Linked DNA regions of Homo sapiens. The protein of the gene in region 1 interacts with the protein of each later gene in a pairwise test. Each region holds a gene or a part of one and is shown on either strand. Other genes may lie near its edges.

Region 1 (7,695 bases):
ATCCTAGAACTTTGGGAGGCTGAGGTGGGCAGATCCCGAGATCAGAAGATCGAGACCATCCTGGCTAACATGGTGAAACCCCATCTCTGCTAAAAATACAAAAAATTAGCCAGGTGTGACAGCACACACCTGTAATTCCAGCTACTCGGGAGGCTGAGGCAGGAGAATCTCTTGAACCTGGGAGGCGGAGGTTGCAGTGAGCCAAGATTGTGCCACTGCACTCCAGCCTGGGCGACAGAGCAAGACTCCATCAAAAAAAAAAAAAAAAAAAGAAGCAGAGCAAGTATGCAGGGAAAAGTGATCATGGGGAGCCTCCCTGCAATGTTTGAGCCAAACTAGATATGGGAGGGAGCTGGCCCTAAGAGAAGGGGCAAAAGTGTTCTGGACAGGAGGACCAGCAGACTCAGAGGCTGAGCAAGCAAAGGGATTGGGACATAGCTGGAACATCCATGAGACCAGGAGGCATGACGAGGAGTGGAAAGGGCATGTTAGTTAAGGCAAGAAGAGATGTGGATTTTTTTCTAAGCAGAATCGGTTATCGTTTCTTTTTCTTTCTTTTTAGTTTTTTGTAGAGACAGGATGTAGCTATGTTGCCTCATGTTGGGCATGGTCTCAAACTCCCGGTCTCTGTTATCTTGAACATATACCACAAGGTCCTCTATGAGGTTGATGCACCACAAAAGACTATGGGATTGAAGGGCATTCAGTCAACTGGTCCACCCTGAAATCCTTCTATCCCACCATGGTTCAAGCAGGCGACAAAACACAAAGGCTCCTCTTGGCCTTGACCATGCAGGTCTATACACACACACACACCCCACACACCCCTGCCCCCTGCCCCCTTCCATCTTTTCCTTTAGGTCTAAACACAAGCAGGCTGTCACTCCACCTGCCCCCTTGGTAGTACCTCCAGCTGTAGTCCCGTTATGATCCTGGGTAAAATGGGGTCTACACTGCAGGTTTCTGCATTTTTTAATTTTCATTATTATTATTTTTTGAGATGGAGTTTCACTTTGTTGCTCAGGCTGGGGTGCAGCAGCATGATATCGGCTCACTGCAACCTCTGCCTCCTGAGTTCAAGTGATTCTCCTGCCTCAGCCTCCCAAGTAGCTGGGATTACAGGTGCGTGCCACCACACTTGGCTAATTTTTGTATTTTTAGTAGAGAGCGGTTTTGCCATGTTGGCCAGGCTGGTCTCGAACTCCTGACCTCAAGTGATCCGACTGCCTTGGCCTCCCAAAATGCTGGGATTAGCTGTGAGCCACCGCGCCCGTCCAGGTTTCTGCATTTCTGTTCATGATTTCTCAGCACTTATCCCAACTATAATTTTACTTGCATTCATGTGACTATTTGATTAGTATCTGTTTCCTGAGTGAGTCTTGTCTGTTGACTCTGGTAGGGTAGAGTCTGAGCCGGTCTTAGCCACCAAGACTTCCTCAGCACCTAGCACAGGGCCTGGCCCAGGGTAAGTCACACCCACACCCACACCCCCACACAAGCTTTTTTAAAATGTAAAAGTTTAAATACAAACGGAGAAAGAATATAATGTACCCTCTGTGCCACACATCATACAATTTGAGTGGTCAACTCATTCCTAATATTATTTCTTCTACACTCAACCCAGTGAAGCGAACTCCAGCCATCGTATCACTTGATACATACTTGAGTGATATAGAGTAAGTGAATGAATGACTGCCTCCTACTATAACAGACAAACTGGGGGGCTTAATTCTTGCTCTCACTGATTTTACTGTCCATACTAGACAGACAAGGGAGAGTTGAGGAGGGGCCACTTAAATGAGTCAGTCAGTTTTGCCACCAAGTTAGCAACTCTGATAAAATTTCAGATGAAACTAAAACTATTGTCCAAAGTGAATTTCCTTTTCCTCATATTGACTGGGCTTTAACCCTTCAGTCGTGTCCTTGCCATGGCCACATTCACCAAAAGCCGACTGTAAAGGAAGGGAGGGTTACCTATTTCCCACAATCTCTTTCAATTAAAAGTCCTGAAAGAACAAGTTTCTTTCCATAAAATAAGCCATGTGGCCTTTTACACAGAAAAATAAGGAATGCCTGGAAATTAGTATTACCACTTGCTCCCTCAAGGGCCAATCTACATTACACCTATTTTCTCTATTTTCACATTTATGAGAACTTGTTCCAAATCAGTCTGGTCTTTTTGAAATGCCATTACAGTTTTACATACATTGGACAAAACTGTCATAGACTGTGATGCTCTCGGCGTCCAGCAAAATGAGTGATACTTGTACCCAATGGGTTTGTTTCATGTCACCTGCCCTTCAAGGTCCCAAAAGTGTGCATAAAAATAACAACTTGAAATGCTCACATGCCAGGAAACAACAGGTGCTGGAGAGGATGTGGAGAAATAGGAAAACTTTTACACTGTTGGTGGGACTGTAAACTAGTTCAACCATTGTGGAAGTCGGTGTAGCGATTCCTCAGGGATCTAGAACTAGAAATACCATTTGACCCAGCCATCCCACTACTGGGTATATACCCAAAGGATTATAAATCATGCTGCTATAAAGACACATGCACACGTATGTTTATTGCGGCACTATTCACAATAGCAAAGACTTGGAACCAACCCAATGTCCAACAATGATAGACTGGATTAAGAAAATGTGGCACATATACACCATGGAATACTATGCAGCCATAAAAAATGATGAGTTCATGTCCTTTGTAGGGACATGGATGAAGCTGGAAACTATCATTCTCAGCAAACTATCGCAAGGACAAGAAACCAAACACCGCATGTTCTCACTCATAGGTGGGAATTGAACAATGAGAACACATGGACGTAAGAAGGGGAACATCACACACCAGGGACTGTTGTGGGGTGGGGGGAGGGGGGAGGGATAGCATTAGGAGATATACCTAATGTAAATGATGAGTTAATGGGTGCAGCACGCCAACATGGCACATGTATAGATATGTAACAAACCTGCACGTTGTGCACATGTACCCTAAAACTTAAAGTATAATAATAATAAAAAAAAGAAATGCTGACATGCAATCATACTTAACTATGCCTTTTTTTACTATAAAATATATTCATTACTTGTATTTTCTAAATTTTTTCATAAGCACAGGGAAAAAATTTTAAGCCTTGTCTTTAAGCCTAGAGCAAGGGTGTCCAATTTTTTGGCTTCTCTGGGACACACTGGAAGAAGAATTGTCTTGGGCCACACATAAAATACACTAACACTAACAATAGCTGATGAACTAAAAAAAAAACTCATAATGTTTTTTAAAAGTTTATGAATTTGTATTGGGCCACATGTTAGACAAGCTTGGCCTAAAGATAAGTCACATTTTGGAGTCTGTTCTTCCCCGTGTGTGTATGAGTTGGGGGTGGGGGGAGGGAGGGTGGTGAGCAGCATGATTACAAGTCCAGGCTCCTTAATCAGTGATAGGTTCAAATCTGGCTCTGCTATCTGCCACCCACATAGCCTCAGGCAAGTTGCTTCCCTCCATAAGCACATTTCCTCTTCTGCAAAGTAGGACTGAAATGACTGCCTGATGGGGTGACAATGAGGCTTTAAAAAGACGAAGAGGGGCTGGGTATGGTGGCTCACGCCTGTAATCACAGCACTTTGGGAGGCCAAGTTGGGCAGATCACCTAAGGTCCAGAGTTCAAGACCAGCCTGACAAACATGGAGAAACCCCATCTCTACTAAAAATACAAAAGTAGCCAGGCATGGTGGCACATGCCTGTAATCCCAGCTACTCGGGAGGCTGAGGCAGGAGAATCGCTTGAACCTGGGAAGCAGAGGTTGCAGTCAGCGGAGATCACGCCATTGCACTCCAGCCTGGGCAACAAGAGTGAAACTCTATCTCAAAAATAAAAATAAAAATAAAAATAAATAGATGAAGTGAGGGACAAGGCATGGTGGCTCACACCTGTAATCCCAGCACTTTGGGAGGCCAAGGCGGGAGGATCACTTGAGCCTAGGAGTTCAAGAGCTGACTGGACAACATAGCGAGACCCCATCTCTATAAAAAATTTTAAAATTAGCTGGGTGTGTGACATGTACCTACAGTCCCTGTGGGAGGATCTCTTGAGCCTGGGAGGTCAAGGCTGCAGGGAGCCGTGATTGTGCCACGGCACTCCAGCCTGGGCGACAGAGCTGAGATTCTGTCTCAAAAAAAAAAAAAAAAGGAACTTAGCCCAGGGCCCGTATGCAGCAAGCACTTAAATGGTATAGCTGCTGCTACTCGGGTTATCAAAAAGGAGCTGCAAAAAAGTCTAGGTTCTGCAGGAGAGCCCTTCCAAGAACCTGCCCAGGAAGTGGGTACACCTGTCCCCACCCCCACAGTAGGAGTCAGAATCAGGGACTGGAAGGGATGGGGTTCCTGGAGGAAGCTCACAGCAGCAGCAGCCTCTGAGTCACAACTCAGCCCCTCCCTGGCATATCCCTTTGTTTGCTGGGAGTTGAGCTGTGACTCACAAAGGCTCTGGTCCCGGGCTGGGCCCATGTGACCCAGGGTCCTGACTGCCCTGCCCACAGTCACTGAGAAAATTCTTTGTGCAGGCTCACCTTCCCCTCATCTCCCCCACTCTTCCTGATCCTGCAGCGTCAGATCCCAGCCTGCAGTATCAGACCTCAAAAGGAGCCTCTGGTGTCTTGTGAGTAGTTTACCTGCCGCCCCACCCCCACCCCGAAACACACACACACACATGGGCACACACCACCACCACTTCTTTTTTGGCCTGTGCCTGTTTTTTCACTGTGCTACATTTTGACATAAGTTCAATCTATAAAGAAAAAGTCCAGGAGAGTCCAACTCCTCTTATACTCTTTTTTATTGTGGTAAAATATAATATAAAACATACCACTTTAACCATTTTTAAGTGTACAGTTCAGTGACATCTAGCACATTCACCATATTGTACAACTCTTACCATTATCCATTTCCAGAACTTTGTTGTCATTCTAAACAGAAACTGTGTACCCATTCAGCGGTAACTCCTCCTGCACCTGCCCCTCTCCCAGCCCCTACTGTATTAATACTTCTCTCTCTAAACTTGCTATTCCAGGTACCCCCTGTAAGTGTCCTTTTGTGACTGACTTTTCTCATGTAGCATAATACTTTCATGGATCAGCATGTTGTAGCATGTGTCAAAAATTCCTTTATTTATTATTATTTTTTTTTTTGCAATGGGGTCTGGCCCTGTCATCCAGGCAGGAGTACAGTGGCACGATCATAACTCACTGCAGCCTCAAACTCCTGGGCTCAAGAGATCCTCCTATCTTGGCCTCCCAAAGTGCCAGCATTACAGGTGTGAGCCATCTCACTCAACCAGAAATTCCTTCCTTTTTAAGGCTAAATAATATTCCATTGTATGTACATACCACATTTTGTTTATCCATTCATCTGTCAATAGACATTTGTATTATTTTTACCTTTTGGCTATTGTGAATAACGCTGCTGGGAACATGGGAATGCAAGTATCTGTTTGGATCTCTGCTTTCATTTCTTTGGGTATATACCCAGATTTGGAATTGCTGGACTATATGATACCTCTATGTTTAACTCCTGTTACACTTTTAGGATTCTGGCAGCCACCACAGCTAACTCTCAGTGAGCAGTCTCTCATCCTGTGTTACTCACCACTCTAAGAATTTTTATTAACTCATTTAGTCCTGAGGTGTGGTATAATTATTTTCATCCCCATTTTACAGACAAAGAACCTGAGGTGAGAGAGGTCCTCCTTCTCAGATGGCAGCATCAGTATCTGAGCCCGCATAGGTTCAGATTTAAATTGTTTCTCCGGTTGTGACAAAAACAAGGTGCTGCTCTGCCTACAAGCATTTTCTGCCCTGAATAATGCCTTTGGGAGGGTTTCCACATCTTTCCTTGCTCTGGACTAAGGATCAAGTAAAAAAAGAGAGTGGGGCAGGGATGCTCCACTGGATTGGATCTGTCTAGACTCACTGCTAGCAGTGAGAAATCCAACTCCATCTAGATGGGTGAGAAGGGGGATTTGTAGGAAGATCCCTGGAGCAGCTCAGTCATGTGACTAGATCCAAAGGCAATGTGCCCAACCCTCCCCTCGCAGCTCCACACTCTGGGCCTGTCCTCACTGCTCTAGCGCTGGGTGAGTGCCTTCAAGCACCTTCTCTGCCACTTCTGAGTGGGTTAGGATGACCCTGAGGAAGCCCACAGCCTGGCAAGGGTGGCTTGTGTCTAGCTCCAGACCGGCTACCACAGCCGAGGGGAGGGGAACCATGATAGGCCCAGCCAGGACCACAGCCCCCACTCGGGCTCAGGCTAGGCTCAGGAGCACGGCGGCGGGGGCGGGGGGTGCTCAGGAGCATGGGGAAGCCTTTCAGAGAAGAGGGAAGGAAGCAGGGCAAGTGCCCAGCACAGATGCTGCATAATCTACAATAGCAAAAGATTGGAAGCTGCCCAGTAGTACTGAACAAAACAAGGTTAAATAAAGCTGCTCTAGCCACTCAGCAAAACACTATGTAGCTGTTTAACAAGCAGGAATATCTGGTGGGAATGACAGGACTCGCTGTTTCTCTGTCTACACACATGCACACACACACACACACAACAAACATGCACACACACATACATACACATATGTAATAATTCACAGGTAAGAAAAATATAGGCAAGAATTATATCATAATAGAAGAATCAAATGGCTTTTAATCTGTTTACCAAACTTTTCTTTACGGGTTCAACAAATTATTGTCTGTACCAGGCAAGGCACTGGGGACATGACAGGGAACACAATAGAAGAAAAATCCCTGCCCTCATGGAATTTACATTCTAGTGGGGGAGGCAGATGACAAGATAAATAAGCAAAATACACCTTATATTGGATAACGATAGTGTAAGGAGAAAAAGCAATGAAGGCAAAGGGGAAGTTGGGATGCAGTGGTAACGGTTTAGACACGATGACCAGGGAAGGCTGAAGGAAATGAGGGACCAAGCTCTGCAGATATTGGGAGAGGTGCATTTTGGGCAGCGGGAATAGCAGGTGCAAAGGCCCTGAGGTGCCCACGCAGGGAACAGCATGGAGGTGATGTGGCTAGAGTGCGGTTATGAGGGGGAAGGGCAAACTAAGAGAGGAGTCAGAGAGGAAATGCAGCCAGATCACATGGGGCCTTGCAGCCAGCCACCCTAAAGGCTTTGGCTTTGTTGCAGTGAAATGAGAGCTATTTGAGGGCTTTGAGCAGAGAAGTAGCCAACCCTTCAGAAGGTTCCCTCTGACTCTGAGTTGAGAACAAGCTGAAAGGAGGTAAAGGCAGAGGCTTGGAGGCCGCAGTCATTCAGGTGAGAGGGGAGAATGACCTGGAGGGTGGTAGGAGCGGGAGGGGAGCAGTGGCCACTCTACAAGTAGAGTCTTTTGACAAGTGAAGAGAAGAGAGATACAAAAGTCAAAGATGACGCCCCAGGCTTTGGGCCTGAGCAACCAGGAGGTTGGGGTGCTCCTTAACAGAGATGTGGGAAGAGGATCAGGAGAGTCGGGCATCCTAGAAGCCAGGTGAGACAAGGCTTCGAGGAAGAGAAAGTGACCAACTCCATCACACGCTGCTGGTAGTCAGGAAGGATGGCAACAGAGAACAGGCCATTGGGATGAGCAACCAGGCACTCACTGTAGACCTTGGTAAGAGATATCTGGGGAGAGGGGAGTGGAAGCCAAGCCTGCCT
Region 2 (7,195 bases), on another chromosome or scaffold:
CCTGTAATCACATCACTCAGCTTGTATATATACATTTGGCTTTCATACATGTAAAATATATCTTGCCTGTTTATGTCCTTCCATGTTGATGAAGATAATAATAACTGATGTTTACCAAATGCTTACTATTTCCCATGCAGTGTGCTTAGGACTATACATGCTTTACCTTCATATTTCACAAGATCTCTGTAGCTGTTGTTATTCCAGTTTTAGCGATAAAGAGACTGAGGTATGCAAAAGTGAGTTGAGTGGTGGAGGTCTGTTTGATTCCTGGTCCCTCACAATTAATTAATTAACTTGTAGAGATGCCATTTCACAGTGTTGCCTAGGCTGGTCCTAGGCTAAAGTGATTCTCCCGCCTCAGACTCCTAAAGTGCTGGGATTACAGATGTGAGCCACCACGCCTGGCCCCTTACTTATTTTATTCTTTTAGTTTTTTATTATAATTTTGGTCTACAGAAAAGTTTCAAGATGAGAACTAAAAATTCCTGTATGCCTTTCATTCCAATTTCCTACATATTAACATTTTTACCATATTTTTGTTCCTCACATTCTATGTGTGTATATACATTTCTCCCCCAAACAGTTTGGGTTATTTGCAGAAATAATGTTCACTATGCTAAAGTACTTCAGTGGATATTTCTTAAAAATAAGGATATTCTCATACTTAACAGTTCTCAAAATCAGGAAATTCATAATGCCCATGATATTCGTCTTACTCAGGTTGGCATGAGATGTGCTTCCTCACTGGACTTCCTCTACTATTTTATCCCTCTGTCTTGTACTTAATACTGCCATCAGAGCTAATTTTGCAAAATGCATTCATGGTTGCCCATTGTTTACTGAAAGACATTCAGATTCCTCTGTATACTATTCAAGATACCTTCTTTTTTTTTTTTTATCTGTCTAGCACTCTCTGTGGGTAAATTTATTAGAAAAGTAGCAATAATTACATGTGCTTTCTGTAGTATACTATGGTGTTCTCAGATTATAAATTTCATTGATAAAATGACTATAAATTCTTAATTCTGAAATCTGGTTGGTAGACGTTTCTACTTTATTTTAAATTTATTTTAACCTTACAGAAAACTTCCAAAATAGTAGTACAGAGAATTTATTTATATCGCTTCCCTTGCTTCCCCTAATGTTAACTTATAACTATAGTATAATTACCAAGAACAGGAAACTAAAATTGTTACAATATTATTAACTAAACTACTAAACTTACTGAAATTCAACCAGTTTTTCCACTAGTGTACTTCTGTTTCAGCATCCTATTTGGGATTCACAGTGCATTTGTAATTTCTCCTTAATATCTTCCAGTCACAGTTATTCAGTCCTTCCTTTCCTTGGATAACCTTGATACTTTTGAAGACTATTAAATGATTGCAGAATATTCCTTAATTTGGATTTGTCACTCCAAATTAAAAAAATATTTGATCTGACTTTTTAAATGTTTTTTAAAGCTACTTCAGAATCTTGGTTCAGCAATTTGAGGTACAGCTTCAGCAGTACAGGCAGCAGATTGAAGAACTAGAAAACCATCTTGCCACTCAAGCAAATAATTCACATATAACCCCTCAAGGTAACATGCTTACTGTGGTAATTTTTTTTGAACTTTTGTTTGTAGGAGATAGATGTGGTTATATAATAGGTATTTTGGATAACTACTGGTAGCCCCTTTAAGAAAATTTCCTTAAAAGTCATTTACTACTCCTTTATTCCCTATAAATATAATATGCTTTATTATATGAATTGTTACTGTGGTAACAAGGACAGAAATCTTAGGGCCTTCCCCCCAGATTTCTTTTGTAGACATTCAGTCTGCTACTCTGTGTGTTCTCTGGCCATGAGAACGTTGATAGAGTTTTTTTCTCCTACACGTTAACTGTGCCAAAAATTGGACTCAAATAGAAAAATAAAATGGATTGTGCTATATATATGTATATATTTGGGTGATAATGTAATTTTCTTTTATAGATTTGTCAATGGCTATGCAGAAAATTTATCAAACATTTGTAGCTTTAGCGGCACAACTTCAGTCTATTCATGAAAATGTAAAGGTAAGTTTTCATTACCCATTTATCTACCTGGATATGTAGACCCAAGTATTTGTTCATCTGGGGACAAATGTGTCCATGCTTGATACAGAAATAGCTAAAATTACATATAAGTGAAAAGATGAAAACTACTATAATCCATAACATACCCAGACATAACGATTGATAATACCTGTTCTTTTAAAAAAGATCCAAGTACGCTGTAGTCTGTTATTATAACTTTTTTTTAAGCAGTGCATTGTGAATAACTTTCTATGTTAATACACATATTTCCTGAATATCATTTTTAATAGTTAACATAGGAGTTTGTTGTATGGTTGTACATTGTTTAACCCATTTTCTGTTGGATATTTAGGTGGTTTCTATTTCTTTACTACTATAAATAGCACTATAGAAAATAGGCATTCTTAGTCAGGCACAGTGGCTTACACCTGTAATCCCAGCACTTTGGGAGGCCGAGGCGGGCGAATCACAAAGTCAGGAGTTCAAGACCAGCCTGGCCAATATGGTGAAACCCCGTCTCTACTAAAATTACAAAAATTAGCCGGGTATGGTGGCGGGCACTTGTAGTCCCAGCTACCTGGGAGGCTGAGGCAGGAGAATCGCTTGAACCCAGGAGGTGGAGGTTGCAGTGAGCCGAGATCACACCACTGCACTCCAGCCTGGGCAACAGAGCAAGATTCCATCTCAAAAAAAAAGAAAATAAGCATTCTTAGTAGCAAATGATTTTGTACTACCTTAATTTTATCTGTTTTAAGTGTTTATTGGCCACTGCATTAAAAACCGGCTTACAGCATTTCTCCCTTTTAAATACAGGGAACTGTTTGTGTTTATTAAATAGTGTAAATAAAATGATTTATCACTGAATATTTAGACTGACTCTCGCTTTTTTTTTTTTTTTTTTGAGACAGACTCTTGCTCTGTCGCCCAGGCTGGAGTTCAGTGGCATGATCTTGGTTCACTGCAACCTCCACCTCCTGGGTTCAAGTGATTCTCATGCCTCAGCCTCCTGAATAGCTGGGACTACAGGCACGTGCCACCATGCCTGGCTAATTTTTTGTATTTTTAGTAGAGACAGGGTTTTGCCATGTTGCACAGGCTGGTCTCGAACTACTAAATTCAGGCAATCCTCCCTCCTCGGCCTCCCAAAGTGCTAGGATTTATGGGCATGAGCCACTGCACCCAGCCTGAATATTTTGACTCTCATAATAACGTTAGTTTTAAAAATGTATTTAAGTGAAATGTTCAAGGTAAGTACATCTTTTCTAACTAACTGAGCAAATGTAATTAAACTCTTTAATCTTGGAGTGTATGTGGTCCAAAATACCTTTAAAATTCAAGCAGCGAAACCTGAGTCTAGATAAATTATCAACTGTGTAGAATAGAGTTTAATTGGAATTATCAACATTTTCATTTTTATTTTGATTTCATGCATAGTAACAGGATTTTTTTAAGTAAACCATTTAAATTACACCATTTTTGAAATGGTAGTGCACTTTAGACCTTTTGCTTTAGTAGATTTAAAACTGTAACCCAAATCTTTAAATTTTGTTCTAAAGGAGGAATTTTATCAGATTTAAAAAAATTCTATTAGTCTATAATAAATGTTACTTTAATTTTTTAATAAAATTAATGTATGGCACTTTGAAGTCCGTTGCACAGAATTCTTTTCCTTAATTTTTATTATGAAATCTTTCAAATATACACAAAAGTAGGCTATCATTATACTGAATGCCCAGGTATGACTACCTAATTGCAACCATTATCAAAACCCTGCTGAACTTGTTTTATCAATGCTCCACAGAAGATGCTTTTTTTCCCCCCACGAAGTATTTCAGAGCAAATGCCAGGTGTAAACGTACATTTTTTTTAGCAGCACTGTCTCCTCTCTGGTTTGGAAAATATATCATTTTTGGTAATATGACCATAAAACAGTGAGACCAAGACCACATAAAACTGCCCTAGATCACGTCAAATAAACGTTGTAGACATGAAATTTTGACCTACTCTTTAAGCAACCCAGGAACGAAAGGATATTCCCAAGAACCAAAGAATATTTTATAATCAGATTTGGTATGTTGCCATTATTTTTAGCTTAGTTTAGTGAGCAAACTAAGCTCTAGGTTTCTTTATTTCTTGTAGAAATCTCACAAGACATTTTTTTGTTCGTTTTGTTTTTCATTAGGTAATCTGTTGAAACAGGCGTTAACTATTCTATCCAGCCAGGCCTCAGGAACATTAACACATTTGGAAGTTTTAGCAATTTGTTTTATAAATCATGGCTGATGTCAAGGTTTTTGTTTGTTTGTTTTATTATTTTGTTTTGTTTTGTTGAGAAGGGCTTGCTCTGTTGCCTATGCTAGAGTGCAGTGGCGTAATCATGACTCATTGCAGCCTCAATCTCCTGGGCCCAAGCGATCCTCCCGCCTCAGGCTCAGCCTCTTGAGTAGCTAGGACTACAGGCATGCACCACCACACCTAGCTAATTTTTTAACTTTTTGTAGAGAGGGGCACTTGCTGTGTTGTCCAGGCTGATCTTAACTCCTGGCCTCAAGGAGTCCTCCTGCCTAGACCTCCCTAAGGGCTGGGATTATAGGTGGGAGCCACCGCGGCCAGGCTGTTTCTTTTAACTAATGGTCTTGGTCTTAAGTTTCTAAGGTGGATCATTATTTTCCATTATCTGAAGTAGAACTAAAATTTATGGGATACTGATGCTTGCCCAGGACAAGGAAGGGTGGATTTGCAAGAGATCGGTAGTGCTTGTTTTTCTTACATCATATGTCTTGATTCTGGCTTTGTATCTTCCCCAGTATCCAGTTCTTGGCAGGCCCCCTTTTTTAATACATCATAAATGTAGCAAAGTTTGGAATTGGAACATCAAACACTGACATCCACACAAAAAGGGCGATGATAGCTTTTAAATACTATAAACAACAGTAAGATTTTTAAGTGCTGTATTTGTTATAATCAGAACCTAATGTTTACTAATTTCTGCTAAGAAATGTAAGAAATATGAAAAATCTGTGTCTCTTCAAAAAGTGGTTAAAAACCTATCTAAATTAGGCTAAATCTTCAATGAAAGCATAAAATAATTCTAAAGTGAAACAGAATTGTTGCTGTTGATGGCCTTAATCAAAGCAGATGCTGCATTGGGTAAAAGCAGCTCACTTTATGAACTTGGGAATTTTTCTTACTCTGGAGTTACAAACACTTTTTTTCTTTGAGGCGGGTGGTTGGGTTCATAACTTTAACATGAATCAAGTCTCATTGTACAATGGTCAAATAATAGCAATAAAGTAGAAGCCCTCATCATACCCTCCAACCACTGCTGAGGTGCAACACCTTATTTTAGCATGTGTTACCCAGGCCTTCTAAAAAATGTATTTAAAAGTATGTATATTTAGTGCTGACTTTTTTTTCTTTCTTTTTTTTTTAAACTGTTTTAATCAAAAGGCTATGAAAAGGTTGGACATTTGAGGGGAAAGTTTCTTGAAAAACTGGAATATTTATTTTTAAATTCTTTTCATCCATCCATCTGCACATTGATGGAGTATTTAAATATTACTCTGTCTAAAAGCTTAGCTGATTTATTTTAAACAAGGCCTCACAAAGACAGTATTTTAGGAAGCATATTGTAAAGATAGGGAGTAAACTATTCAAGGGAGCAGTAGAACTCTTGAACTCATCATTTCCTACACCAAAGTGCATTATTAGCACTCTAATTTGCAGTTTGGATTGAATGTATAATATTGGGACTGTCTTTGGTAATTTATGGTTATATTCATCCACATATTAACCATAGTCAATGTGAAACTTCATTTAGCCGTTTTGTTTATTATTCTTTTAGGTTCTGAAAGAACAGTACCTTGGCTACAGGAAAATGTTCTTGGGAGATGCTGTTGATGTGTTTGAAACAAGGCGAGCAGAAGCCAAGAAGTGGCAGAACACACCCAGAGTTACTACTGGACCCACTCCTTTCAGCACCATGCCAAACGCAGCAGCCGTTGCCATGGCTGCAACACTTACACAGCAGCAACAGCCTGCTACAGGTCTGAACGCATTCAAGTTATAGCTTCTTACTGTTCCAATGCAGAACATTTATGTGCGTTTTTATAAGTCTTCCATTTGTGTGAGCACTGAAGAAATTTCTATGAGTAGCTGTTCCAATACAATCTAAAATTGTGATGGACACGATTATAAACATACCTGATAAAAAAGGCAGGGTAGTCTTAGCAATAATTATACATCAATTAGATATTGAATATTGTGAATCTACTTAATGTTATTTGCTGTAATGCTATAAATGCCCTTTAGAACATGGTGTTTCACTAGTGAATTACATTTAAGAATAACATTAGATTCTGAAATCATGACTGTACCATTTATTGTTTTAAAGTCAGAGATCATCCATCCATTCTTTGAATTTTTCATATATGATACTGATAGGTGGTGCATTCTCATTTTCCTCATACATAGTGATTACAAAGTACCCACATTCAGGATGAAGTATGCTTTTATTGACTGAAGGTATGTTGAAGATCAATAGGCTTGTTTGTATGTATGTTGACTGTAAACAGAATACAAGCCCTCTAAACCAAATTTTGAAGATGATACATGCTAGAATTGTACCTTTCCAAGGTGAACAGAACAGCAAGAGCAGGAAAAAGATGTTTTGAGATGTGGATTGCACATTAAGGAGCAACTGGGAAGTTGAACAGATGAAAATAATTGGTGACATGGAAAGCAGATTGTTTTATTTCTTGGTTTAGTTACACTTCTAATTAGAGAAACATTTTTTGTGGTCATTCTACAGTGTTTTATTTGGTCCTGTGTCTTTCGGAGGTTAATAGTTATCTTAATCCTGCCATCCCTTTTGTCAGGTTTGAAGCTTGACATGGAAAAATAGTCTTAATCGATATTGATTTTTTTATTTTAATCATTCATAAATTTCTTAGTAATGCTTACTATTCAATAGCATGTGTCTTTCTGAGAGTTCCATATAGTCCAGTAGTACATTATAATACACACAAAAAAATTAATACATATTTAGATTGCATTCAAGCTACCTATACTAGGGAAGCATTCTCTGGTTTTCACTATTGGCAGTTTAAAAAATTGTTCTTCACATTTGGAGA
Region 3 (8,030 bases), on another chromosome or scaffold:
TGGTGTAAATATTCCCACCGTGGGGACTGGGCTACCAGCATGATGTCACTGAGTGTGGAGTTGCGAGTAGAAATGCAATTGCACACAATTATACAGTATTTCTACCATATAGATAAATGGTGAAAATAAGAGCACAGATAATAGTGAAATATAGTAAAATAATTATGAAGTACTAAGTTTTGAGAATTTATTACCTCTATTTATGTATTAGTCATTTTCACACTGCTATAAAGACATACCTGAGACTGGGTAATTTATGAAGGAAAGAGGTTTAATTGACTCACAGTCCTACATGGCTGGGAGGCCTCAGGAAACTTACAATCATGGTGGAAAGGGAAGCAGGCAAGTCTTACGTGGTGGCAGGAGAGAGAGTGTGTGAAGGAGGAACTGCCAAACACTCCTAAAAGAATCAGGTCTCGGCTGGGCAAGATGGCTCACGCCTGTAATCCCAGCACTTTGGTAGGCTGAGGCAGGTGGATCACCTGAGGTCGGGAGTTCGAGACCAGCCTGACCAATATGGAGAAACCCCGTCTCTACTAAAAATACAAAATTAGCCGGGCGTTGTTGCGGGTGCCTGTAATCCCAGCTACTAGGAGGCTGAAGCAGCAGAATCGCTTGAACCTGGGAGGTGGAGGTTGCGGTGAACCGAGATTGCGCCATTGCACTCCAGCCTAGGAACGAGAGGGAAACTCCATCTCAAAAAAAAAAAAAAAAAAAAATCAGGTCTCATGAGAACTCACCATCATGAGAACGGCATGGGGGAAACTGCCCCCATGATCCAATCACCTCCCTTCCACCAGATTCCTTCCTTGACACATGGGGATTATGGGGATTACAATTCGAGATGAGATTTGGGTGGGAACACAGAGCCAGACCATATCAATTTATAATTTACTTAATTATAAGTTTATATAGATTGTTATTGAAGGCTGTGCTTAATACAGCCTTAATACAGCTGGGTGTAAGAATGCATGGAAATTTGGCCAGGTGTGATGGCTTACTCCTATAATCCCAGCACTTTCAAAGGCTGAGGTGGGAGGATCTCTTGAGCCCAAAAGTTTAAGACCAGTCTGGTAACATAGAGAGACTTCATCTCTACAAATAACATAAAAATTAGCCAGGCCTGGTGGGATGTACCTGTGGTCCCACCTACTTGGGAGGCTAAGGCAGGAGGATTGCTTGAGCCCAGAGGTCAAGGCTGCAGGAAGCCATGTTTGTGCCACTGACTCCAGCCTGGGTGACAGTGAAATCTTGTCTCAAAAAAATCCACAAAAATTCATGGAAATTGAGCAATCAGTTCGTAAGAAAACAACACTAAACACACTAAATCAGTTCTTAAGAACACAACACTAGCACAACACTAAAGGGGACCGAGGCTGGAGAAAATAACAGTCTCCTTTCCTTCTTCCAGCTCTGTCTTTCTCTGACCTCCACACCTTTGCTTATTCTGTGCTCTTAGCAGAAGATGCTGTTCCCTTCCTCACCTCCACTCTTATTCTTTCCATCCTTTCAAGGCTGACTGAATCCAAGCCGTTGTCTCTGCTTGGCTTCCCCTCCCCTTTTCTCTGGGAAGTGCACCCCCTCCACCCACAGGTTACAGTGGGAGCAGCCAGGTTTGTGCAGTAGGACCCTGTCACTCGGGCCAGAGTTAATTAGATAAAGGGTAGGCATCTGATCCAACTTAGAATGTGGACTACAAACAAAGATTCCAGCTTGCTGCTGGTAAAAGCCATTTTCTGGAAAGCAGAAATGCTTGTGTGATGTGAGCAGACAGGCAGAGATGAAAGATGGGGGAGAGAGTACTTTCTGGGTTCCCTTTAGTACTCAGGTCCTGCTTGTGGTCTGATCCTGAGGCCCAGCTGCACCCCTGCCCTAGTGTTCCATGGGATATTTCAGGATCTCCTGAGAGTGCTCTCTCAAGTAATCCCTTGTATGAAATCCCTGTCTCATCCTCTGCTTCTAGGGACAAACTACAAGGCATTCGATGCTCAACAAATACTTGTGCTGATAACTTCTCTTTCTGAAGCCAGCTCCAGGAGAGGTCTGTAATCAGAAGAGCCCCTGAACCCTGAAGCCTCCTGGGCTGCCCAGCCCAGGCATCTCCTCTGTGAGTTTTGCGACACCCTTCTAGTCATTTAACGAGCCTCATTGGCTTTCTCTGTGAATACGATGGAAGATGGCCACCTCAAAATGGCAGCCTTGGCCTTCAGAGATCATTGGTCCTCACAGACCCAGTTAATTAACCATGATTGTCATGTCTCAACTTCCAGCTCCAAATTCTAATAGTCCAGCTTTTTTCTGCCGTCCACTCCTCATGCTGTCAACTGTGTTGTGGGGGAAGGTTACAGTACAAACCTGGGTGCAAGTGAGGGCCATCCCCTTGGGTGGGAAGAGGCGTTCTCAGAGGAGAGAGCAGGTACCCCCAGATTGTCTAATGCCTGGCCTGTGTGTGGCCTTCATTTCTCCCCAGCCTCACTCTGGGAAGGAGGTGGTCTTCTGGCAAAAGAAGATATCAAAGTTCTTCCATCAGAGGAGATCCTTATCAGCAAGACATTCACTCTGAGGTGAGGATCCAGGACAAACAGGCCTTACCTTACCTAGATCCAATGGGGGGAGAAGTACAAAGAGGTATCTAGAAAGGAATGAAGACAGGATACCAAGAAGACTTCTAGGCATCCATGAAAGGCAGACTTGATATATCCTGCCAGCTATAAAATACACATGTTGAGTCATAAAGCAAAGCACCAGGAGATTTCTAGAAGTGTTCCTAGAGGAGCACTCCCATGTAAGTATTGGTTATCATCATCACAATCATCATCAATCAATCATCATCATCATTATCTTCATTATCATTTCTAATGATTCCTGGTGATACCCTGTTCCCATGTTCCTCTCCAGCCACCAAATGGAGCAATTACAGGGTTATGGGTAGGCATCTGACCCAGCTTAGAATATGGAACCTTAGATCTAGCTTAGAATGTGAACCCTTTTGCTCTCCTGGCCTCAGTTTCTCCATCTCTAAAGGGAGGAGTTGGAGCAGACATTCTCCAATGTTTCCTCCATCGTGATGTGGTATTCTCCAGTTCTATGGGGACACAGATTCAGAGTTCCACCTCCCTTTGTCTGAGAGCAGTTGCTGGGGCTGGAAATGATATGTTAGATAATTCCAAGGCATGTGTATGCCGGGGCTTGTAATCAAAGATTCCAGAGCCAAATAAGCCTGTGTTTTTGCTTTTCTCCCCAGCAGCCTTGCATTGGGCCCCAGGCAGCCTCTGGAGAAAGCAGAGAGTAGCAGAGATGGTGTGAGCCTCCCTGCGGGGTGGATACCTTGCTTGTATTCTCAGAGAAAGTGGAACTGGGCAGAATTTCCCAAGCCAGGAAAGGTGGCAGAGTGTGACATAAGACATTGAGCAAAGAAGCGAGGGCCAAGGACTCAGGCATAGAAGAGTAGACTGCACAGTATCAGTAGTGTGACCTCCAGAGAGTACTTAACCCTTTCTGTGGGCTTGGCCTGCTCATCTGAAAAATACACATGGTAATGCCTCCCTTAGGAGGCCAGGTAGGGAGGTGAGAATTAAAGTCGGTAATACGTGGGAAGCCCAGAGCATGGCATGAGGCATTCAAGAAATGGTTCTTGTATTTACTGGTGTTGAACAAAGAGAGAATGGCAGGAGGAAGAGCCAGGGTGAGATTCCCTGGGTCCTGTGGCTTCCCTGGCTGCTATTCAATGGAAAAACCAGGGAGTGAGCACTGTGCTCTTGGCTTCTGTGCTACTTAAACAACAGCCTTTTCTGCTCTGATCCCCAGCACCCGGCAATTACTGACTCTAGTACATTTTACCTTGTGTTAAGAGGGAGCTTTACCCTGGCTGAACATGGGGCTGCTGCCAGCACCCAGGCTGGGAATGGACATCTCTGTCATGTGGTGCAGTCTCCTGTGGAGTGTGTGAATCCTTCCAAACCGGAGTCACGCGGCAACTCCAAAAGTCCTGGGAACTCATGTGTGCACCAGGACTGCTGGGAGGCCGTCTTATGCCTTGCTGCATTATAAACGGCTATCGTCTCAAATGCATATGAGATGTTGTTGAAATCAACAAAGTATTACATTTGCTTAAAATTGACCTTGCACTCATCTTTCTACCCAATGTGGATTTCCTCAATCTCCTAAAACAGTATCTGCCATGACACTAATAAGAACATCCCTTCCGTTTATGCAGAAGCCACGGTCCCTGTCATTGTGCTGAGAGTCTTTTTCTCACTGAGTCTTCTCAACCGCCCCATGAAGCGGCAATTCAGGATGCCCATTTGACAAACGAGGAAACGGAGACTTAGACATGTGAGCTCGCTTGCCCAAAGTTACAGGACTAGTCGATGTCTGGGGTTCCAAACCAGGCCTTCTGACTCCGAGGCGCCTGCTTAATGGTCCACTTTAAGGACCAGGGATGCACTTGGCATTTTCGTTACTTCATTCGGAATGAGCTGGGAATCGCTCTTCCTCCTTATTCCCTTCCGTGGGAGGGAATCTCCCCTGCTTTGCATGCAGCCTATGTCACTCTTCGAGGGCTTTGCCTCCTGAAGTCCGTTCTCTCCAGGGCTGAAATCTGCCTCCGCTGGTGCTAGTTGAGCATTGCTCGCTTGCCCGTCCCATCTGAGCTCTTTGGCCCCAGCCCAGCTCAGGAGCTGCCCTGGGTCTCCTCCCCGACCCTAGGCCTCTTCAGATCTCCCCTCCGTGCTCCGGGCCTCAGTTTCCTCCAGGGGAAAGCAGAGGGCTTGGTTTGGTGCCTTCCTGCGAGGTGAAGCGAGGGGTCCCCCTGGACGAAGGCGAGCTTGGAGCCACCCGCCCAGCAGCCGACGGGAGGGCCTGGCGCTCCTCCCCCACCCGCCTGCCCGGCCGCCCCGCCCCGAGGGCGGCTCCCGCCCGCGCCCTGCCCACCCCGGCCGCGCGCACCACAACGCCCCCGCCCCGCCGCCCGGAACCAGCTGAGCGCAGCTGGACCCAGCAGCCGCTGTCTCCAGTGCCGCAGCAGCAGGTAGGGGAGGCGCGCGGCCCCGGCCCCGGGCATCTGGGGGTCCCGGGCTGATTTGAGTCCTTCCTCTCCCTTCCTTCCCGGTCCTATCTCGCCCGCGCCTGGAGCTCGGCCCGGCCGCGGGGGCATCGCTGGAAAAGGGCTTCCTCGCTCACTTTTCCCGTCTTCCAAGGGACCAAAGAGTGTGGATGGGAGTTGGGGGATGGGGAGACGCCGGAGCAGGAGAGGAGAGGGGCCAGGCCTCCACCCCGTGATTCCACTGTGCTGCTAGCACCTGAGCTAATAACCTCGACCCCGCCCCCGGGATGGGGGAACTGGCCCGGGGTCACCCCTGCACTTGGGTTGTCTGACCCGGGCATGCAGGGGACCACCAGCTACGGTCTGGGCGGTGACTCTGCTGGGGAGTCCACTCAGAGGACCCTTGCCTCCTGGACGATACCTGTGCCTGCTCTCCTCTCCAGCTGCTTCCTCTTTCTGGGGACTGTTAGAAAGTTCTTCCTTACACTGTCTGAAATCTTCAGGCGCCTGCTACCTGTAGGTGCTGGCTTCTCCCCGGCCCTGCAGTGTTCCCTTCCCTGACTCACACGGAAGCTTCTTCTGGAGTTGAAGACAGTGATTGGAACCCCTTCTCCCTGAGCCCCCATGTCTTCTGGGGTCCAGCCCCCCAGAACCTAAATAACAGCAACTTCCCTCTGGTCCAGTGCAGGCTGGCTGGTCTGGGCAGTGCCCAGGGGGAAGCCCCAGTCCTTGGAAGGCTGGGGGCTGGGGGTGTGGGTGAGCAGGAGACATTGGCTTTCTTCCTAGCTCCTTGTCTGCCCAGACATCTGTCGCTTTATCCTGTCTTCACACCCTCCTCAGAGCATGGAAGGGAGCTTTAAAACACCCAGAACTCATTCTGGGCTGTCCTGAGGGTAATTGGACTTTGTGGAAGGCGGGGCCTCTGGGGAGGTGCCTTTCGCTTTTGTTTGGCATCTGGGGACTTTTCAAACACTTAATCCTGTGTGTCCTGTTCTCCCAGGACCACATTTCTGACCAGGGCACCAGGACCTCTCACCGCTCTGCCGTTTACAGCGACCATAGCTTGCTAGAATCTTACCCCATCTCCATTTCCTCCATTTCACAGTTGAGAAAAGTCAAGGACCCAGAGAGTTTATGATGGGCTAATTGTCACACAGTGAGGCAGGGTAGGGCTGAGACCCAATTCCGGTCTGCCGTTTGCGGACTCCTTGCTGGGAGGGACTCTAGCCTCCTTCTTGGGTGTTCCGTTTACTAAAGGGACAAGCATTCCCTGTACATACACACTTGGGGGTGCTGGTTGGTGTTTCTTGGGGCTGTTAAGGGGGAGAGGCTTGGAAACAGAGGAGGAAGGATGGGGGTGGGAACGGTCGGCTTTCAGCTCCTTTGAAACTCCATTTTTCTTTCTGGGGCCATGCTATTTATAAATGCCAGGGAAATTGTAAACAGCCAGGGGAGCTTGGGTTGGCACTCGGTGAGTTACACAGCAGCAAAGAAGGTTTCTGTGTGAATCAGGGGAGGAAAGTTTACTCCAGAATTTTCCACAGTCCTTTTATTAGGGACTAACATGAGCCTGGAAACAGGCTGCTCCCAGGAGGGGTGGCTGCAGGGTTTGCCCCGCATGGCATTTCCTTCCTCCCCGCCTCCCTCCTTTCAGCACTTCTCTGGGCCTGTGTTCTGTGCCTTGCCCTGCGAGGGGCCAAAGAGCCTTGGAAGAGGACAGAGCTCTCTGTCCTCAAGATGCTTGCCATCTATACTGTTTGACACTTTTGTGCCATATTAAGAGTGACTTCAGCCTGCAAGAGGAGTGACTAATTTTGTCTAGGTGAGCCAGACCTCAGAATGAATAATCATTTACCAGGAGAAACAGGAGTTGGGGGAAAAGACATTCTGGGAAGCAGGAACCACTAGTGCAAAGGCACTGAGATTTTCTGAGCCATCCATGTGGCTAGAGTGGAGGATGGGAGAAGGGCGGGGTGGTGGGAGGTTGAGAATCTAAATGAAAATGGAACTAGATTATAAGCTAAGGGTTTGGACCTCATCCTGAAGGCAATGAAGAGCTGAGAAAGGGTTTTGACAGAGCAGTGATTTTTAAAAACTCGTTATTCTGAATGGCTGATGTAGGGGATGCATTGAACGAGGCTGATCTGGAGGCAGGAAGGCCCTGAGGAGGCTGTTGCATGATTCAAGTGAAGTAGATTGCAGGTCTGAACTAGAGCAGTGGCCACTGGGATGGGTCAGAGCAGCAGATTCTGGAAGCCCAGCTGAAGGTCTCAGAACCTGCTATAAATTTCATCTAAAAGCAGACAACAGGCTAGACCTACTGGAGAAGGTTGCTAAGGTATTCAGCATTGTAACTTTTTTTTCTTTTTCATGAGTTTTAAAACAAACAAAAATTGTTAAAGAATCCCTCCAAGCCCGCCTCTTTCCCCAGAGGTCGCCACTGTTAACAATGGTGTGTGCACTCCTGCCAAACACGTTGATTGGATGCCTTCACTTTTAGCCATCCAGTGACAGTGGGTCACTTTCCCCTACTCCATGTGAATAGTTTGGGTCATTTGTGATGTGGGTCATAGAGATGATTTCTGCTTGGTCTATGGTACGTTGCTGAGACACTGAGCTCTGGTTTTCTTTAAGAAAACTTTTACATCCTGTGTCTGCGGCCTCTGGGTGTGTATATTTGCTTATCAGAGACCACAGGTGTGAGAGAAGTTAGAAGCACTGACTTGGAAATGGACCCCCAGTCTTGGTTCTTTGGGTGACCTTGGGCAAATCCTATCTCTCTGAGCCTCTGGTTCCTCATGTGTAAAATGGAGAGATGTTGGTTTGCATGATAATAATAAAAAGCTATCTTTTAACTGGGCATGGTGGCTCACACCTGCAGTTCCAGCATTTTGGGAGGCCGAGTTGGGTTGATGGCTTAAGCCAGGAGTTTGAGACCAGCCTGGTCAACATGGTGAAACCCTGTCTCTACTGAAAATACGTGCTG
Region 4 (7,195 bases), on another chromosome or scaffold:
CCAGCCTGCCGGCCTCCGCCCGCCGAAGCCGCCCCGGCCTGCCTCGCTGCTGAGACACGCGCCTCACTGTCTCTCTGAGGAGGAGGGCGAGCAGGACCGACCTCGGGCACCCGGGCCCTGGGACCCCCTCGCGTCCGCAGCAGGTGTGCAAAGGGAGGCAGCCGTGGAGCAGGCGCAGAGTGAGACTTCTCTGGGTGCCAGAGGACAGCGAGGACACAAACCGCGCCTGGGCTGCTGTGTTCTGACCTGAGCGGGCGTGGGCGGTCGGGCGGGGCGGGAGGAGGTAGCCTCGCTCTGCTCCTCTCCCGCTCGCGGCGCCCCACGCCACGGTGGCTCCGGGCCCCCCACCGTTAAAACGGGGTCCGCGTGTCCTGTACGCAGCGTGTTGCTCCGCAAAGGATGACAGAGCTGCCACGGCAGTGCGAGGTGCTGCTTTTACCGTAGACGTGCCTTTTCGTAGCTTTCAGCGTAGAGCTTGAGGCCTGTGGCTTAGGCCGGGTGGTCTCGTGCTGGTGGGGTCTGCGTTTGCCCCTGCCCCTCCGTCAGCTTCACCTTCTCGTGCCTTCTTCTGCGCTGGGTGCAGAACAAAAGACCCCCTCAAGTCAAGCCTCCTTGTGAAGCGTAGTCTGCCCGCCCACCCCCCGTGGGGTTCTTGGCCGCCCTGCCCTCCTCCCACCTGTTAGGGAGCCGGATAGTCTCTGAAGTGAGTGCCCCGGAGAAGTTCTGGGTCACCCTGAGGACGTGCTGTGCATGTAGGCTTGGCCCTGACTGCGTCCTAAAGCCCAGGGTCCATGTAGTGTGAATCGTGCGTCAGTTGGAAGTATTTGTGCCTCTTCTGGTTCTTATCACCGCACGCGGTGAGGTGACCCCAGCCGCTCATGTCGTGCAGGAAGACATGGATGGTTGATCCCTGGGTTTGGGGGACCGAAGCGGATGTCGTGAGGTTACTTCTGTGGACTTGGGCCGAACAGCACTGTCTAAGCAGGACATGAAAAGAAGGGGGAAGCGTCTCTCCTTTTCCCTTCATGGAACTTTCCATTGAAAAATTAGCCCCTTCCAGTCCTTCTCGGATGAAGCACAGTTGCCGGTTACGCTTCCGAGGAGGACGGAAGGTGCACCCCCAGCCGTGAGAGCCTCAGGATGTGCCGCCTGTGGGTGGGCACGGCAGCCCCTCCAGCCGGCCGCCCACCTGCCGTGCTGCGCTCACCTTTGCTGTGTGAGTCTGTGCTGTGTCACTGAGTGACAGACAGAGGCAGTTGCAGGCTGCATGCACCCAGAAAGAACTCCCCCTGCACTAAGCGGGCATGGGGGAGGCTCCCCAGGGTCCCTGCACTGAGCGGGGTGGGGGAGGCTCCCCACGGTTCCCTGCACTGAGCGGGGTGGGGGAGACTCCCCACGGTTCCCTGCACTGAGCGGGCGTGGGGAAGGTTCCCAGGATCCCTGCACTGAGCGGGGTGGGGGAGACTCCCCACGGTTCCCTGCACTGAGCGGGCGTGGGGAAGGTTCCCAGGATCCCTGCACTGAGCGGGCGTGGGGAAGGTTCCCAGGATCCCTGCACTGAGCGGGCGTAGGGGAGGCTCCCCAGGATCCCTGCACTGAGCGGGCGTTGGGGAGGCTCCCCAGGGTCTGTTGTGCGCTCCTGGTACTGGAGGGTCTGATGGCCGTAGGGAGGGTGCACTGTTTGTCGATGGGTCTTTGCAAGGTGCAGGATAGAGCAGGGTTGTAGCTGTAGTGTCCCTGAACCACTGGGGTTAGGAGGCCACCGGAAGCCTGGCCTGCTAGGGGCCTTGTGATTTCGCAGGCCCCGAGAACGTGGTGTGCAGGTGCGGGCCGCCTGGGGGAGCCATGTTTAAAGTGCGGTGAGGCTCCTGGAACGGCACCCACCGCAGGCCCGAGGCCACACCTGTATGTCAGAACTGGGCGGGTCTTCTCCTCCCAGGCCTTCAGCGCCTGTGGCTATGGCTGTGGGCGGGACTGATACGGGCAGGCAGGCGCTGTTCTCCCCACGTATTCTCGGCTTCCCCGCCATACACCGTTTCTGAGTGGGGAGAACTGGTTGACTGCTGAATCCCAACACAAATCCTTAGAGCAAAGAGGCCAGTGATGGCTTTTGTTTCTGCCCGGATCCTCTTTGTGGATCTTCCGTTTTGCGGCTTTTCCTCTCATTTGTTTCCTTTTTTTAATCGCTTCATGAGATCTTGAAGATACCAAAGTAACCATCAAAGATTTAAAGACGTGATTTTTATACAAATATATAACGAACACGTCAGAGACTTTTACTTAAGTTCTTACTGAGAGATGACAAAGCTGACTCAAAGGATGAGTCAAGAAACCGCTGCAGAGTTGGAGACAGAACTGGAGTGAAATTGCAAAGCAGGGTGGTTTTGGTCTCTGCAGAGGCCATTTGCGACTCACTCACCAACTCCGGTGTCAGGGTGCTGGTGGGTGACAGGGAAGAGGTTGAGCAAGCCTCCGCCCCTGCAGGCTCGCTCATTATACAATGAGCACCTGCACCACCAAATCCGAACAACTGTACATGCTTACAGAGAAGGGCACGTGCTAGTGTGGGAGTGACAAAGTCACACGGGTGCAGACCCCTTAGCTCCAGCCTGCTGGGTGTTCTGACGAATGGACTTTGTAGCGATAACACAGGCTCCTGAGTCAGGATACTGGTTTGCTGCATTTCTGCGTCACTGAAGGTCTCGCTTTCCCCGAAGCCCCTTGTCACAGAAAACCCATGACTCTTGGCCAGGCCTCTGGGTGCCTGGAAGATCCCACTATCATCTTTTTGTGGGATTTGCATGTCCTGGTCAAGGTTCCTGTAAAAGGAATACAGTGAGGAGACCGGCCACCCGACAGTATTGATGGCCCCCACTTTGGCCTCCAGCCGTCTGACCCGTCCCTGAATCGAGCAGGTCCTGTCGGAGCTCCCAGGAGTGAGCGAGCTTCCACTCACAGGGTCACAGCCAGGTGTGCAGCCCCCAGGCCTGGGCGGTTCTAGGGCATGATTTTTTTTAGGCTGGAAATGAGCTCTCACTTGAGATGCACCCCTCAAAATACTGAACGTACTGCTTCTGTGAGAATTTCCCCTCCTTGTGTCTGGTGTGATTGACAACGGGTGCAGCCAGTGGAAGCAGGAATGTCGGGGAGCGCGGGGTGCAGGGGGTGCCCTGTCACAGTCAGCGGGGAGCGCCTGTCCCTGCTGCGTGGTGTGGGGTTCCCGTGGCTGGCATTTGCTGCTGTGTGGAGTCCTCAAACCCAGCGCTCGCCCTGCCTGCGTTCAGAGGACAGAGGCACCACCGGGAACCCACCGGATCCTCACTCAGGCTTTGGAAAGGCCGAGTGATGTTTTGTGTTTGTGAATTCCACACATACTGTAGGAGTATCAAGAACACGTAACTGTTAAAAAAGGAAAAGTAAAATTACTGAACAGGAAAGAAAGAATAAAGCAGGTCCTTTGTTTTTTTGGCTGAGGAAAGCAGCCTGCCCTGGAACGCTGTAGAATGTCTCCCTTTTTGTGAAGCACAGCATGGAGCTCTCGGAACTGAAGATGGGAATCTAACCCTGCCCTCAGCTTTCAACAGCTCGAAGTTTGTCTTTTTAATGAAACTAATTTGTGTATTTATACTTAAGGGTTTTCAAGTCCTTAAACTTGATAAGAAAACTTAAGTCGTTTTCTATCAGGACAAGTTTTTAAGTAGTCACTGGTGGGAGAGCGTGCCTCTGTGGACTGTGCCCAAGGCTGGCGGTCCCACGAAGTCCCAGAGCCCGCGAGCCGGTGCCCAAGGCCATGTCTGTGATTTGCAGGAGGTTCAGGTGACAGGAAGGCCTGCTCTGTTTTTCTCACTTCAATTTTGGACTTTTTTTTTTTTTTTTTTTTTTTTGAGACAGTCTCGCTCTGTCGCCCAGGCTGGAGTGCAGTGGCGTGATCTCGGCTCACTGCAACCTCTGCCTCAAGGGTTCCAGCGATTTTCCTGCCTCACCTCCCCAGTGGCCGGAACTACAGGTGCTTGCCACCACTTCTGGCTCATTTTTGTATTTTTAGTAGAGATGTGGTTTCTCCATGTTGGACTGGCTGCTCTCGAACTCCTGACCTCAGGTGATCCCCCCGCTTCAGCCTCCCAAAGTGCTGGGATTACAGGCGGGAGCCACCGCGCCCGGCAATAGTGGAGGCTTGAAGAACACCGGAAAGTGGTTTCCTTGTACCGGACCCGCCCCTCCCCCACCATCCCGGCAGCCCCAGGGCGGGTGAGGGCGACTGCAGTGTGGTCACCTCAGGCTTTCCGTCCCTAGCTCATAAAGGCCCAGTGGCAGCAGTTGCTTTAAAGGAGCTCCGTTACTCCCTTTGTTCTGGGGTCTTGGTAAAGTTTGCTTTGCTGAAGCGGAGGAACCGCAGGCGGTGCTGACCCCCCCACCCCGCCCCCATCCCACGGGGTCCCTTGGGTCCCGGGGCACGAGGCTCCTCTGAGGGACACGGCCTCCAAGAGCTGGCTCTGCCCTGGCCGCCCTCCACAGTCACGGCGGCTCCCCGCATGCTCCTCGGGACGGAGATCTCCTGGCTTCCTCCCGCTTCCTTTCCTCTGCGTTTTCCGCAGAGCCGCCTCCCTGCTTTGGAAGCAGGTACTCAGCGGCCTCTGCAGCCGCCAACGGCACACAGGCCTCTCTCTGTTCGTTCTTTCTTTCCGTAACCGTAGCTTGAGGCACATTTCCTAAATATGCAGCATGGAACGCTTGGCGGTTCTGAACGCGCATCTCGTGCTGCTCCTGTAGGGCGGTTAGGACGCGCTCCTCTGGCGAGGAAGGTGGCAGCCTCCACTGTGCACGGGTCACAGGCGAGTGTGGTGTGGTGTGGTTGTGGGTGGGGTGTGGACTGGATCTGCAGGCTTGTCCCTCTCTCGTGGAGAGCTGTCGGGGTCCAGGCAGTGCTCAGTGGTGAGAGCCACAGCACATTTGAAAGTCCACATGTGTTTGCCCCACTGTGGTCCAGGACATGTGTGAGCCACACTCAGTGGACTTGCACCTGTGACATGTTGGTCAGCGTGGCGGCCGTCAGCTGGGTGTGGAATGCATCTGATTGGAGCCTGGCACCCGGCCTACCATGATTGTGATTCTCTGGGGCGAGTCCTGAGTGTGGGCAGGGCCTCAGGCCCCCAAGAGGGCTGTGAGCAGGCACCTTCCTGTGAGGCACGATGCCACCATGTGAAGTTGTGTGGGTCTTTGGAGAGTTCTGGCAGGTTGAGGGCCTGTGCGTGTGGGACCCAGGCCTGCCCTGCCTGCTGCCGGCCATGTTCCCTCTGCCCAGTCATGTTGACAATTGTGGCCAAATTCAACATCGGGCCTGTTTCCTGCACCCACGTTGGCACACACTGAGTTCAAGACAGTTTCTGCAGAAATGAATCCAGAGGTGTTTATTTCTGGCACGTTGGATCAGACGTTCAGAGGGTGGGCGTCTTTCTCCATGCACTTCAGCTGGATCAGTCAGTGTCAGCCATTGACTTTAGCAACAGGGAAATGAAAGACTTTCCTCAATAAGAAATGGGACTTTCTCACGCTGGATGGCACAGAGCTGGCAAACATGAGGCCAGTCCACACCAAGGCTTTGCCTGCAGAAAGGCTGCACTGTGGCCAGCGGGGGAAGCGGAGGAGACACCTGTGGACACCCTCCCCACAGGTGGGCACACCTTTGCGCAGGCCCAGTGTGCGTTCTGAAGGAGAGCCCAGGGTGGGGTTCCGGGACTGAGGTGCAGCCGTGTCCAGGGTGGGCTTCTAGCTCTGCCGCTGGGCGGAACTGGGGTAGGTCCCAGGGTGGGGTTCCAGGACTGAGGTGCAGCCGTGCCCAGGGTGGGCTTCTAGCTCTGCCGCTGGGCAGAACTGGGGTAGTCCCAGGGTGGGCTTTTAGCTCTGCCGCTGGGCGGAACTCGGGTAGGTGGGAGTCCTCACTTCTCTGCAGGGTGGTGAAGCTCTCTGGGTAGTGTGAGCAGTTCTCAACGTGCACCTTGGAAAGCGCCCGTTTTGAGGTTTAGCTGTGGCCAAGATAGATGACTTCATTTTGTTGCTTTTTGTTCTTAACATGGGGAGATATTTAGAAAACATGTTTGGCTCTTGCTGGGGAAGCAGTGCTGTTCCGTACAGTGTTTTACAAGCCGTGTTTCCTTAGGATTGAAAGAAGGTGGCAAGAGGAAGAAGCAGAAGCAGAGAGAGGAGTCGAAGAAGAAGAAGTCGACCAAAGGCAATCACTAGACCGGACTTGAGGCACGCGGTGCACCCCCAGACGCTGGCGCTCCACCGTGCTCGGCATGCGGTCGTGCACACGCGCTAGGTAGCAGCGTCGGTCAGGACTGTCTCGAGGCCACACTCGCTCGGCAGGATTATGCGATCACGGATCAGTCAGAGCAGGGTCAGGAGACGGGGCTGACGGCACGGGTGGCGGGGACAGACGTTTGGGACTTGGCCGCGACTCTCTGCTTCTCTCCAGCTCTCAATCTGCTGCATTTTCCTCTAGTGCTTCCGGATCCTCTTCATTCTTTTCGGCTACTCAACCACTCCGCATGCTGCTGGAATATTTCTGGCTTTAGAAGTACAGGAGGGCGCAGATGGCTAACTGAGTAACATTCATGAAATGAGGCTTTCTGTGGCGGCGTAGTGTTTGGAATTAGAAGGTAATTCAGTAGAGTGTAACTTAGAGAATATTGCAAGTGACACATTGAATCCTGCCCGTCAGGGCACCTTTTCCTCAGAGCAATCCGGCCACACGAATAGAAGGCTGTCGTGAATCACATCAGATGTAAAATCATTCCTTCTGTTTACTCTTTTAATTTTCATCCTTTGCAGGTAGTGCAAATTCAACTTCAAATATGGTGTAGGTTTTGCTAGATTCCATATTTTTTTCTTGGATTTTTGCTAATTATTTTTAGCAAAAAATTTTTGCTCAGTGGCACTCTCCCTAGTGTCCATGGGTTAGGGCCATGCTGGGGAAAACGGGCCGGTATTTACACACGCGCAAAACACCCAGAGACGGCACAAGGAGGTTGAACTCATGTTTCAGTTCGCGAACATTGACTCCTTACGAAAGTCACTTCATTCTAACTAGATGCGCCCACTTCCGGTCATTATTTCGTTTGCATGATGTATTGCTTCTTCACGTTTTGTTTTTATTGAGCACGGAGTAGAATTCCAGGGCTGCCTTGACTTCTTC

The links.
Region 2: the proteins of SPATA12 (region 1) and NUP58 interact in binary tests that used the Homo sapiens proteins (3 or more experiments, as listed by UniProt).
Region 3: the proteins of SPATA12 (region 1) and GSN interact in binary tests that used the Homo sapiens proteins (3 or more experiments, as listed by UniProt).
Region 4: the proteins of SPATA12 (region 1) and DNAJB6 interact in binary tests that used the Homo sapiens proteins (3 or more experiments, as listed by UniProt).

Annotation. Positions count from the first base shown.
Region 1 is NC_000003.12:57,056,133-57,063,827, forward strand, and holds the start of SPATA12 (spermatogenesis-associated protein 12), read left to right. Parts: upstream 1-4,531; 5' UTR 4,532-4,654; intron 4,655-7,695.
Region 2 is NC_000013.11:25,325,450-25,332,644, forward strand, and holds part of NUP58 (nucleoporin p58/p45), read left to right. Parts: intron 1-1,466; coding exon 1,467-1,585; intron 1,586-1,980; coding exon 1,981-2,063; intron 2,064-5,907; coding exon 5,908-6,109; intron 6,110-7,195. UniProt on the Homo sapiens protein: Component of the nuclear pore complex, a complex required for the trafficking across the nuclear membrane.
Region 3 is NC_000009.12:121,263,191-121,271,220, forward strand, and holds the start of GSN (gelsolin), read left to right. Parts: upstream 1-4,971; 5' UTR 4,972-5,029; intron 5,030-6,734; exon of another isoform or gene 6,735-6,866; intron 6,867-8,030. UniProt on the Homo sapiens protein: Calcium-regulated, actin-modulating protein that binds to the plus (or barbed) ends of actin monomers or filaments, preventing monomer exchange (end-blocking or capping).
Region 4 is NC_000007.14:157,409,859-157,417,053, forward strand, and holds part of DNAJB6 (dnaJ homolog subfamily B member 6), read left to right. Parts: coding exon 1-143; coding exon of another isoform or gene 144-250; exon of another isoform or gene 251-4,829; intron 4,830-6,157; coding exon 6,158-6,240; 3' UTR 6,241-7,195. UniProt on the Homo sapiens protein: Has a stimulatory effect on the ATPase activity of HSP70 in a dose-dependent and time-dependent manner and hence acts as a co-chaperone of HSP70. Plays an indispensable role in the organization of KRT8/KRT18 filaments.